3 linked regions of the Homo sapiens genome follow. The protein of the gene in region 1 interacts with the protein of each later gene in a pairwise test. Each region holds a gene or a part of one and is shown in the gene's direction. Other genes may lie near its edges.

What was found.
Region 2: the proteins of MYOM1 (region 1) and FMR1 interact in a two-hybrid assay, tested with the Homo sapiens proteins (one large-scale study listed by IntAct).
Region 3: the proteins of MYOM1 (region 1) and PDE4DIP interact in binary tests that used the Homo sapiens proteins (3 or more experiments, as listed by UniProt).

Annotation. Positions count from the first base shown.
Region 1 is NC_000018.10:3,066,319-3,070,072, reverse strand, and holds the end of MYOM1 (myomesin-1), read left to right. Parts: intron 1-2,517; coding exon 2,518-2,811; 3' UTR 2,812-3,266; downstream 3,267-3,754. UniProt on the Homo sapiens protein: Major component of the vertebrate myofibrillar M band. Binds myosin, titin, and light meromyosin. This binding is dose dependent.
Region 2 is NC_000023.11:147,918,265-147,921,918, forward strand, and holds part of FMR1 (fragile X messenger ribonucleoprotein 1), read left to right. Parts: intron 1-3,654.
Region 3 is NC_000001.11:149,029,359-149,033,112, forward strand, and holds the end of PDE4DIP (myomegalin), read left to right. Parts: intron 1-428; coding exon 429-567; intron 568-873; coding exon 874-920; intron 921-1,814; coding exon of another isoform or gene 1,815-1,866; intron 1,867-2,585; coding exon 2,586-2,627; coding exon of another isoform or gene 2,628-2,731; 3' UTR 2,732-3,658; downstream 3,659-3,754. UniProt on the Homo sapiens protein: Functions as an anchor sequestering components of the cAMP-dependent pathway to Golgi and/or centrosomes.

The DNA of each region.
Region 1 (3,754 bases):
GGGCAGTGAAGACATACAGTGGGTGACTGGAATTCGGGTAACAAAGCAAGGCATGTGGAAATGCTTTAGCAAGAGGTAGGTTTCATTCAACTGCATTTCCTCATGGTTGGAAAATATGATCACGGTTGATTTTAAGCTCAGCCACTGCAGGGGTTCTTTTGTTCCTCAACTGTCTTTTCCATTTTCCTCACCTAATAAGGTTAAAAATATACAACTCTCTAGGTCGTACTGAGAATTAAGAAAGAGAATGTATATGAAAGTACTTTGTAATGCAGAACCCAAATCTGAAGTGTGGATAAGAGTTTTCCATGATGCCTAAGGTGTTTGGGAGTTTTGTTTTTTCTTTTTCACATTTTTTTTTCCTAACCACTAGACTGTCAGGGGGTGTTTGGGACTTTGTTTCATTTTGTTAAAAGTTTTAACTACAAGTAATCACAGTTTCCAAAAGCATATACCTAATCTGCTCATTAAGTTTAAGGATAATAATTGGACTCCTCTTTTTTTGACTGAAATGTATTTGTAGGATAATTCAGTAAGAAATATTAATTAGTGATGGGAGAAAAACAGATTTCTTAATCTATCCAATTTTAAATGATATACCTGCAAAAGGGGTAACAAATAATCATGTAAGACCCTTTAGAAAGCTATGTAGATGGGTGTTCTTTCTCTGTACATTGTGAGCCCTAGTTCTTTCCTTATCACATCTGGATTTTAGTAAGAGAAAAATACAAGAATGGAATTTTAAAATGTGAAGTAAATTCAACATCATTAACCACCAGGCAAGTGAACATTAAAACCACAATGAAATATCACACCACACCTATCAGAATTGCTGTAATAAAGAATAGTAGCTGGGTGGGCTGGTGTACAACAACAAATGGTGGGGAGGCTGTGGAGAAACCGAATCACTTGTATATTCTGGTGGGAATGTAAGCCAAAATTGTATAGCCGCTCAGAAAAACCGTTTGGCAATTTCTGGGAAAAAAAAAGAAAACATGGGCTGGGTGTGGTGGCCCATGCCTGTAATCTCAGCACTTTGGGAGGCCACGATGGGAAGATTGCTTGAGACCAGGAGTTCAAGACCAGCCTGGTCAACATAATGAGACCCCATCTCTATTCTCTATTTTTTTAATTAAAAAAAATAAAGAAAAAATGAAACATGCATTTATCATACATTCCAGCAATTGTATCCCTGGGCATTTATCCCAGAGAAATGACAGCTTATGCTCACATAAAAACCTGTACACAAATGTTCATAGCAACTTAGTGCATCATAGTTAAAACTGGAAAAAGCTCAGATGACCCTTACGGGCATAAACATAGTATGACATTCTAGTCAGCAAGAACAAGGGATAAACTATCGATACATGCAGCATCTTGGATGAATCTGGATGTAATTATGCTGAGTTACAAAGGTTATTCTGAAAGGTTATACAGTGCATGATTCTATTTATATAATATCTTTGACCTGACAAAATTTTAGAAATGGAAAACAGATGAGTGGTTGCCAGAGATTAGGAACAGAGTTTGGAAGTTGGAGGAGAGGTGGGTGTGGGTATAAAAGGACAACGCAAGGGGTTCTTGTGGTGATGAAAATATTCTGTAAATTGAATAGAATGAAACACACACAAACACAAATAAGCACCAGTAAAATTAGAGAAATCTAAATAAGGTCGGTGGATTGCATCAATGTCAATATACTGGTTATGACATTCTACTATAGTTTTGTAAAATGTTACCACTGGGAAGCTGGGTAGACAGCATACCAGATCTCTTTATTATTTCTTATGGATTTCTTTATTATTTCTTACAACTGCATGTGAATTTACAATTATCTAAATCCTTTTCAATTAAAAAAAGTAAGGTAAAATAAAACTGTAGACCTTGTGTCTACATACATATCTAGAATATCGATCTTTTAGAATAAGGTTTCAGCACAGATGGGAATATTTTCTTTAGGAATACGTTTTGGTAGGGGACCACTGCAACTGCAGCAGATTGGATGGGCTTTGAGGAGAGAAGTAAAATAAGGGTGGTGGAATTTGAAAATCAGTAACATTATCTGAAGCAGCTGCCGTGATTCTGCTGCCCGGCTCTTTGATGCAAATGAAAGGCAAAAGTGAGCAGGTGGCAATTACAGCAATGAGATTCCTGTACCGAGACAGAACCCAAAATGCCACAATAGAGCAAAAGGCATCTATATGTTTATGAAAGAGAAAGTGAAAATGGGGAATAGACATAAACTCTTTCGTGTGTTTTTGATAATAAGCATTCCAGAAGCCAGAAAGCATATAAAGGCCTTGAGGAGCATTAAAAGGCCTTGAGGAGATCCCCTCACATGTTATTTCAAACTGTAACTCACACAGGTGCATACACAGAACTACTTTAAACCCTGGTCCGGGAGGCTTTTACTTATCCTCCCTTTGGTCATGCCAAGCCACCAGCCGGCAAGATTGTTGACAGTGTGTCTATTACATCTAATTTATCTTCTTCTCTCCCATAAAACCTGTCTTGCAGGCCCTTAATCTCACTTGCAACGTGTGGGGAGACCCGCCTCCGGAGGTGTCGTGGTTGAAGAACGAGAAGGCCCTGGCCTCAGACGACCACTGCAACCTCAAGTTCGAGGCTGGGAGGACCGCGTACTTCACCATCAACGGCGTGAGCACCGCTGACTCGGGCAAATACGGGCTGGTTGTGAAGAACAAGTATGGCTCGGAGACCAGCGACTTCACCGTCAGCGTGTTCATCCCAGAGGAGGAGGCGAGGATGGCCGCCTTGGAGTCCCTGAAAGGTGGCAAGAAGGCCAAGTGACCGGAGGTGCGAGGAGAGCCAGCCGGCCTGTGTGACTTGGGTGTGAATGGTTTGGGTTAAGGATGAGACGTCTTCATGCTTTCTCCTCCCTATTATTTTCTGGCTTGAGGGGAAAATAATGTCAGGTCTTTCACTCATATAAAAAAGCACCAACTAATGACACTTTAATTGTTTTTCTTTATCTACAAAATTATGTGTTAAGAAAATACCATTCATAGCATGAAGATTAGGAAACAGTTTTAAGGAGAAGACTTGAATGAAGTTGGAGGGACATTGAATGATGGTCAGAGGGCAGACGAATGTGTCGTGGGGCGAATTGGGATTTGCTGCAGCTGTGAAGCCATGGCCGTGTCTCGTGTGTTGTTACAGAGGTGATGTGCTTTTCGACGGGCGCCTCGTGGCTTGGAACCTCCTCTGTATGAATAAACAGTTTTCACGTCTGTCCTCTTCCCCGACACTGTTTCTCAAATTCCTGCTGTTTTGCTGCTAGGTTGGGTGGCTTCTTGGTGCTTCTTTCTCAACGCGTCTTGTGCCACATCTTCTGATTTAAATTCCTTTTGGTGAAAGCAGTACCTTGCAACATGATCAGATAAGTCGTTTGAGCTCAACGAGGTTCAGGGGTGTGAAATTACACGGCCACTGCACATCTGGTGGCTTACCACACAATCAAGCCAATTCCATTAATAAGATACACAAGGCAATTGAATGTAATGTGACAATTACATGTGATAAGATGGTGTGAGGCGCCTCCTGCCAGAACTGGAGACTAAGGGCCCACAGCTAAGAATAAAAGGTACATAAGAAGCCTCATTCTGAGCTCAGAGAACTGCCAGCTGTGGAAATTGCCACTCCCTGAGGGGTTTGCTGAGGGTCAGCATCCCAGCAGCAGCTGTTGTAGAAAGTTTTGTCCTCCCCAACCCCAGCACCACACACACACACACAC
Region 2 (3,654 bases), on another chromosome or scaffold:
ACCTTAGAATTCACAGGAGGTATTTGTCCTTCACGCGAGTGTAGACCAAACGTAACCTATGAGTTTCTTTTATTCCACTTATTAAAGCAGCAACCAAAGGTATTATATACCTTCTGTATTCACTTAAAATGACTGATTTTGAAAAAGTCATGCAAACATCCATTTACAGATAAGCCTCATTAACTCAAAGGCAGTGGCCCTGTTGGGCTCTGATGATTACTCAAACCATTTCTGACACTCTGACACTACATCCGGAAATCATCCGGAAATGCATTCAGAGCCTGCAAAAGCTTTTTTTTTTTTTTTTTTTTTTTTTGAATAGCTACAGCACTTGCAGATCTTCCTCCTTTGAGAGAATATTTGATTTTAGGAAATAAGCAAATGTAGATAAGTATGATTCAACTGGGCAATAACTTTTAGGCAAAGAGAAAAAAACAAAATATAGCAATGTAGTAATAAGGCTGATATTATAGTGCTTTTATGATGAGTCTGAAAACAGTCTCCAACATTTGTAAATGTTTTAAATCGGGTCTGTCTACTACAGTAGCCCTTAAGCCATATGTAGCTATTGAGCACTTGACATGTTGCAAGAGTGAATTGGAGACTGATTTTAATTTTATTTAATTTTAATGTAAGTAGTCGCACATGACCCGTGGCTACTATGGTAGATGGCATAGTTTTAGACAAGGGCAGTAGTCTTGGGTAGATACTTGATTTACTTAGAACATTTCTTTACCTAGCTGTAACAAGGTTCTAATAGCTGATTAAAGGACAACATTTTTAGCATGTAATATACAGTAAGGAACTAATGTTAATTACTGCCAAGATGTATAAACATTATGAAACCTTAAACAAGGATGAACACAGAAGCAGTGGCCCTTCTTTGTAAATAAGGGGTCAGTTACTTCCTAATAGGTGTCTTAGTTTTAGTTAATAATCTAATAGCACCCCCAAAAAGCAAACTGTTAATTTGTTATTAGCCATCCTGTAAAGACAAGGGAGAAATCGGGGCCAGGAGAGTCCTCTTTCCCATTCTCCATAATTTTTACGACCTATAGAAATAAGAGCCTAAGAGTGACCAGTTCCTGCAACCTAACTCAAAATTAGGCCTCTCTGTTGAAGTAATAGTGAGGCAAACAATCCCTTGAAGCACTGGGGCATGCACCCTTATGAAATCTAATAATTCTAAAATATCATTGGCAGTATTAAGCTAGAGTTCTCAAAATATGCTGTAGAAAATATTGGTCATTTAAATATAGCTGAGTAAAAATAAGCAAGATCAAAATGATAAGAAAATGTTGATTTCTCCCCTTTTGAACCAGTAACTAACTATAAGGGTATATACCCATGCTTAACTTAAAAATAATTATTTAGCCACCTTGGGTATAGCACAACATATGGATGCCATTATAGTCCACCTTGATCTTACAAGGAAGCTTTCTTTTAGCGTAGCTTTACTTTTATTTAAGCATTATTGAAGAAGCTTGGTATCTCTGTTTAAGTTGCTTCTGTATCAGTGTTTTCCAGGGCCCTGTCTCAGCTTCCATAGTTTTTCTTAAGAGCAGCTAATTAATGCTTCACTCCATATGCTTTAATTTGATATTTTGGGAAGTTTCATTTTTTAAAATAATCTTTTTATATCATAGGCCTTTGAAGACATATTTGTTTACAAAGACATCTGCATTGAACCATTTGTTTTTAAAAACATGTATCGGGCATGTTCTATATACCAGAAACTATGCCATTTACTGAGGACACCGAAGTTAGAGAATGGTCTTAATCCGAACTAGTTATTGTCTCACTATCCAATATGGATATCAAACATTCAGCGTCATGAGGATTTACTACTGTGTTTTCTCCCAAGAGTTTTATAATTTTAGCTCTTATATTTAGGTCTTTGATGCATATTCATTGATTTTTTTTTGTATGCAGTATGAGGTAAAGGTTGAAACGTATTCTTTTTGCATGTGGGTGTCCACTTGTCCCAGCTTCATTTTTTGAAAACACTATACTTTCCCCATTGAATTGTCTTGGCTTCTTTGTTGACAAAGGATTTATTATTTCTGCCACAACCCAGCTGTTTCTCACTGTCTAAACCTTTATGCCTGCTGCCCCGTAGGCTTAGTGGAATGCCTCTCCATCCTCCACTCTCTTTTGTTTAGCTAGTACTTCCTTATCCTTTAAGGGGTCAGTAGGAACCTCACCTTCTTCAGTATGTTTTCCTTTGTCTTATCAACCTACCACCATCACCCACACACATACCTTTTCCCTAAGGCTGGGATAGGAACCTCTTAGGCAATGATCTATTTGATAAGTACTCACTGAGTTCATACTAGACACTCTGCAGTATATCCGTAAATGAAGTAAAACCTGACACCACCCTCAGAAAACTTACTGTTAGTGAGAAAATGGGCTATAATAATAGAGTGGGGTAAGTTTATTGTAGGGATAAGCATAGGATGCTATGAGAATGCAGAGGACAGGAATTTAACCTAGACTTCTCAGTTCTCCCGTTGAAGTTGACATCTGAACTGAAATCTGGAAGACCAGTAAGAGATAGCTATGTAAAAAGAGGGGAAGGACAATAGGAAAGAAGGAATGGAGAGAGGCCCAGAAACTACAGAGTATGGCACAAGTAGTTTAGCATTGTTGGGTCACAAATTCTAAGGATATGAAAGATAAAGTTGAAGAAGTGGTGGGGCTGGGGAGGACAGCTCCTGTAGAGCCTTTTACAGCGGGAGAAGGAGTTTGGCTATGGTCCTGCAGGCAGGGAGAAACCACTGAAGGGGAGAAACATACAGAATAAATTTGAGTAAGAAGCTTAAATCTCCCCAAGCCCTTTTAAAATAAATTAAGATATAAAGCCTTTGGGTTTCTTTATGCTTTGTCCTATTCTTCTAATTGTCCAAAACAAAACAAAAACCTTCCTTTTCTGTACCTATTAAAAGGTTAATTTTATAAAGTTACAGACAGCATGCTGATTAAAGAATTCTTGATAATTAGCTATTTTGTCTGTCTTTGTGTAGATTACTAACAATTGTGTCATCAGATTTAAAAGATCTAAACCTCTGGACTTTATATATTTTTTCTACAAGTACTGTGAGATTGAGAACTTAATTCAACTCTAGTAACTGGACTTTTTAGTGTTGTTTGCAGCATATGATTGTTAAAGAAAGTTTAGTATATTTGTGTGTGCGTATATATATATATATAGATAGATAGATAGATTTGAGGTTATATTTAATCATTGACTATTGGTATTCTAAGATTTTAAGGAGAGAAAGGTAGGTTACAATATATGGCTGATATATGGTTCTGGAACAATTTTCTTAGTTTTCAGTAATTCTACCTAAAATGTACGTCCAGCTTTGCACTCACTACCACATTGTAATTTCCAGTATACTTGTCTATTTTTCGAGATGTTGAAATCTGTGGAGAATTTTTTCTCATGTTTAGTGTTTTAGCTATGTTTATCTCTAGGGTATAGCACATACAAGGTGGCAATATAGATGTGCTTAATGAATAAAATGATCTTCAAAAACTGACCTTCATTTGAAGTTCTATTTTATTCATAAACACATAAAACGTTTGGTATCACTGTAAAATTTAACTAAAAACAAAAACTATCTTTAAGCTCACAAGTTAATTTAACGT
Region 3 (3,754 bases), on another chromosome or scaffold:
CTTCATGTTGGCACAAATATTTACAAACTTGCAGACTTCCCTGAGTCCAGATCTCTCACCCCAGCATAACACTTCTGAACTCTCAATCTTACCTGTGAAGGGAGAGTGACAGAACTGATATCAGGACTAAAGCAAGGTCCTCTTCAGAGTTGGGAGTTTGATACCAGCCTGAGGCGAGGTTCTCTTAAGCTACAGGTGTGTAGGCCTGTGCTAGTCTGCATGGGGAATTCCAGAGTCTCATTATTCCTGCCTAATGGCCTCATCCTGAACTGTCCTCAGCTGGAGGTATCCGAGGCTGTGAAGGAGGAAATCCAGTTCAAGAGAGTTGAGAAGACTGTAGAATCCTTCTTTGAATTGGAAAGAGCCACAAAGCACAGGGTGCTTTAGGCCTTCTGCCTGGTCAGTAAGAGTCTGTTCCTCTTATCCAGGGAGAATCAACAGAAAGGGAACTTCTGGAACTGAGAACCAAAGTATCCAAACAGGAGCGACTCCTTCAGAGCACAACTGAGCATCTGAAGAACGCCAACCAGCAGAAGGAGAGCATGGAGCAGTTCATCGTCAGCCAGCGTAGGTTCCCTGAGAGGGAATGGGGGAAGAAACAGGCAGTCTTCCCGATGCCCCACTTGTGCTGCAGATGAGCAGTGACCAGGGGGGCTTGGGGATGTTGGGAGTTGAGACTGATTTGATGTCCCCAAACCTCCTGTACCAGGAGCAATTGTGGCTGCAGAGGGAGGGGAGGACAGGGGGTGGATAGAAGGAGACTCCAAGCTGAATAGCCAGAAAGAAATAAATGCTTTAGAATTCTCATGCTAAGCAAGTAGGGTTAATTTCTGCTGGTGGTTTCTACTCTGTGGTGCTCTTTTGTTGTTTCAGTAACCAGAACACATGATGTTTTAAAGAAGGCAAGGACTAACTTAGAGGTAAGGAAACTACTGCACCAGTCAGAGGCACCAAGCCTGTCCCCCACCCATCACCATCCGTTAGCAGATCTTGTAGGTGACCCTTGGCCTGCTTTGGCCTTCCAGGAGAAGACTTGGGGTCCACTTGCAAGATCACAGGTCCTCAGTGAGCATCCTGCTAGTTTCTGTCCCCATCACCCTCCCACCCCGTCAGCTCCTGCCCCTGTATCTTGGTTCACTCTCACATTGTCATCATCTCTCCTTTTTACTCCAATTTTTCTTCTTTGAGGCCAAGTTCAGAGACTGGAGAAATGCAATTCAGCTGACTCTTGAAGTCATTAGACATTCGGGAGTCTGCCTCTGAATGAGCTTCTAGTAGAGGGATCTTGAGGCCAGTTATGTGTTCTACTCTTCATGAAAAAGTAAAAGCAATTTGCAACCTAATAAACTGATTTCACTGCACATTCCCGGGTTAAGAACAGCAATTTGATTTTGCTATATCTTTAAGTAACATGACAAAAGAGATCTGTTGGGTCTCATTGGTCTAAAAGCGAATTTGTTAATAAATAACAACTGAACCTTCAGGGAAAAAATGTTATATATGTACCAGACATTATCTACATTTACTTAAAACACTAAGTGTTAATCATTCCCTAGGAAGTGCTTTGAAGAAAAACTTGAGGTATATGAAATGGTTAAAAATCAGAAACTAAACCTTTTAACATGGACATCAAAGCTTTGCCATAAGCAATTCAGCATATTCCTAGAAATGTTTCTAATCCATAACCTGAGAGAATGTTGATCTCCATAGTGTGAAAATGACTTGGGCCAGTTTAACTTGCTCTTTTTTTTATTTTTTCACTAATTCCCTTTTGTTTTTCTCTGATAATTCTTCTCTTTCCTGAGCCTCTTTAGAGCAGCACTTACAGGATTGCCTCTGTAAAGCCTTATTCCTGTCCCAGAAAAGGTAATCCAAAAAGTCTCTAGTATCCACTAAAAGGTAACCCAAAAATCTCTAGTATCCACTGGCTTTCTCCAGTGTGGAAGCTTTCCCCTCCACCTCCCATAGATCACTGGAAAGGACCCGAGGCCTCGGTTCTAATCCCTGGCTTATCACTAACTGCTGTGTGGCTTTGGCTTGTCCCTTAGTCTCTGTGAGACTGCTGCACCCTCATCTGTCAAAGATGGAACTGGACTTAGTTGAGCTCTGAGGTCCCTGTGGACTTGGCCCCTCCACACCCTCATTATGGCAACTGGACATAAACTTAACAGAGGGCTTCCCAGCAAAATGTCCTCTTCTTCCTACAAACAGGCTGTTTCTATATGTGCATGTTTCATGCTAAGCACTTCTTTCTTGGGTGGACATGGCAAAGGCCTCTTTCTGCTGAGACAAAGTGATTTGGAGAGTCACCTGGCCCCTGAAGGGGGAGTGGTAGGATCCAGCCACCCAGTGTGCAGTGAATTGGAGCAGGGATCTCAGCACACAGGGAGGTGGGGAGGCTCCCCCTAACCTCGGGCACCTGTTGCTCCTCCAGACTGCAGCGCATGCTCTTAGCTCATCCTCTTAACTGGCTCTCACCGTGCTCCTGGCTTTGGTCACCACGTAGCTCTCACTCCAGCTTCAGGTAGCCATCAGTAGGGCCTGGCAATATACACTGATTTGGTTTGTTTTATGTTTGTCTGCAGGTGAAATCCCTAAGGGCTCTGCCATGTACTCCAGCCTTGTGACCCTTGCCTTCCAGGAACCATGCAAGAAGCGCAGCCACCAGAAGTCCTTAAAACAGCAGGAAAGGTGGGCCTGTCCCCCTTTTGTGCAGCTACCTATCTGCTGAGGAGCATCTGGGCCTCATTCCTCCAAGTCCACGGGAGGGTCCAGAAGAGGGAGTCAGAGATGTATCCTGGTGGAGCTGGGAGAAAGGCAGAAAGCCTTTCTGACGGCTATGGAATACGATTAGCCAAGGTCCACTTGGCCCAGCACTAAGAAAAAGATGCGTAGTTTGCACAGAAGGTTTTGTGATCCTGCCTCTCAACAGCCCCAGCAGCTTGGGAACTAGCAAGAGCACATTTCTTGCCTCATCAGCTGTCCTGAGATGGAAAACTCAGTGAATATAGGACCCTGATTCCGATGAAAGGGGCACGTGGTCCCAATGCTGGAGCTCCTCTGGCAGGTTCTAAAAGCACACTACTGAGCAGCGGTGCCCTGCCGGACACTGCTGGCGGGGGCTCAGTGAGCACTACTCACAGATCCACACCTGACCCTGTTGGGTCGAGTCAGGCTGGGCCTTGGTCTGCACTGTAGCACCTGTGTTCTTTGAGTTCACATCATGAATGTGGTGACTTCCCAGATACCATCTCAGGCTTAACCTAGCACATCCTATTTCTTTTCTTCTATGATATCCAAATTGGACTGACCTCACTTCAAAGTTGCTGTCCCATTTTGTCACCCTATCTTATCTCGGGGAAATTGCAGACTGATGGCCAGACCAACTCTGTTGAAATTCTTGCATAGAGCAAACCTGTGCTCATTTTTAAGTGGCATGGGAGAGGCCCCAAGCCTAGTAAAGCCTAGTCTGTGTCTTCACAGTGCTGGTAGAATGTGTTTGTGTGTATAAATATATGATATAGATTTATATATGTTGCTAACGCCATATATTGAAGGCCAACATAACTGGTGGACAGGGTGGGTGACAGAAAATGAAAGTCTTTTTGGTGATTGTTAAAGCAAAATGTGTATAAAGAAATAAATAGTTTTTCTTTCACTGCTTTGTTTCCCATTTCTGCACCAATCCCTTGACAGTATAAAGAACTGGAAAGAGAAAATGGGAAAGACAAACTGTGTTTAAGAAGCATATAGT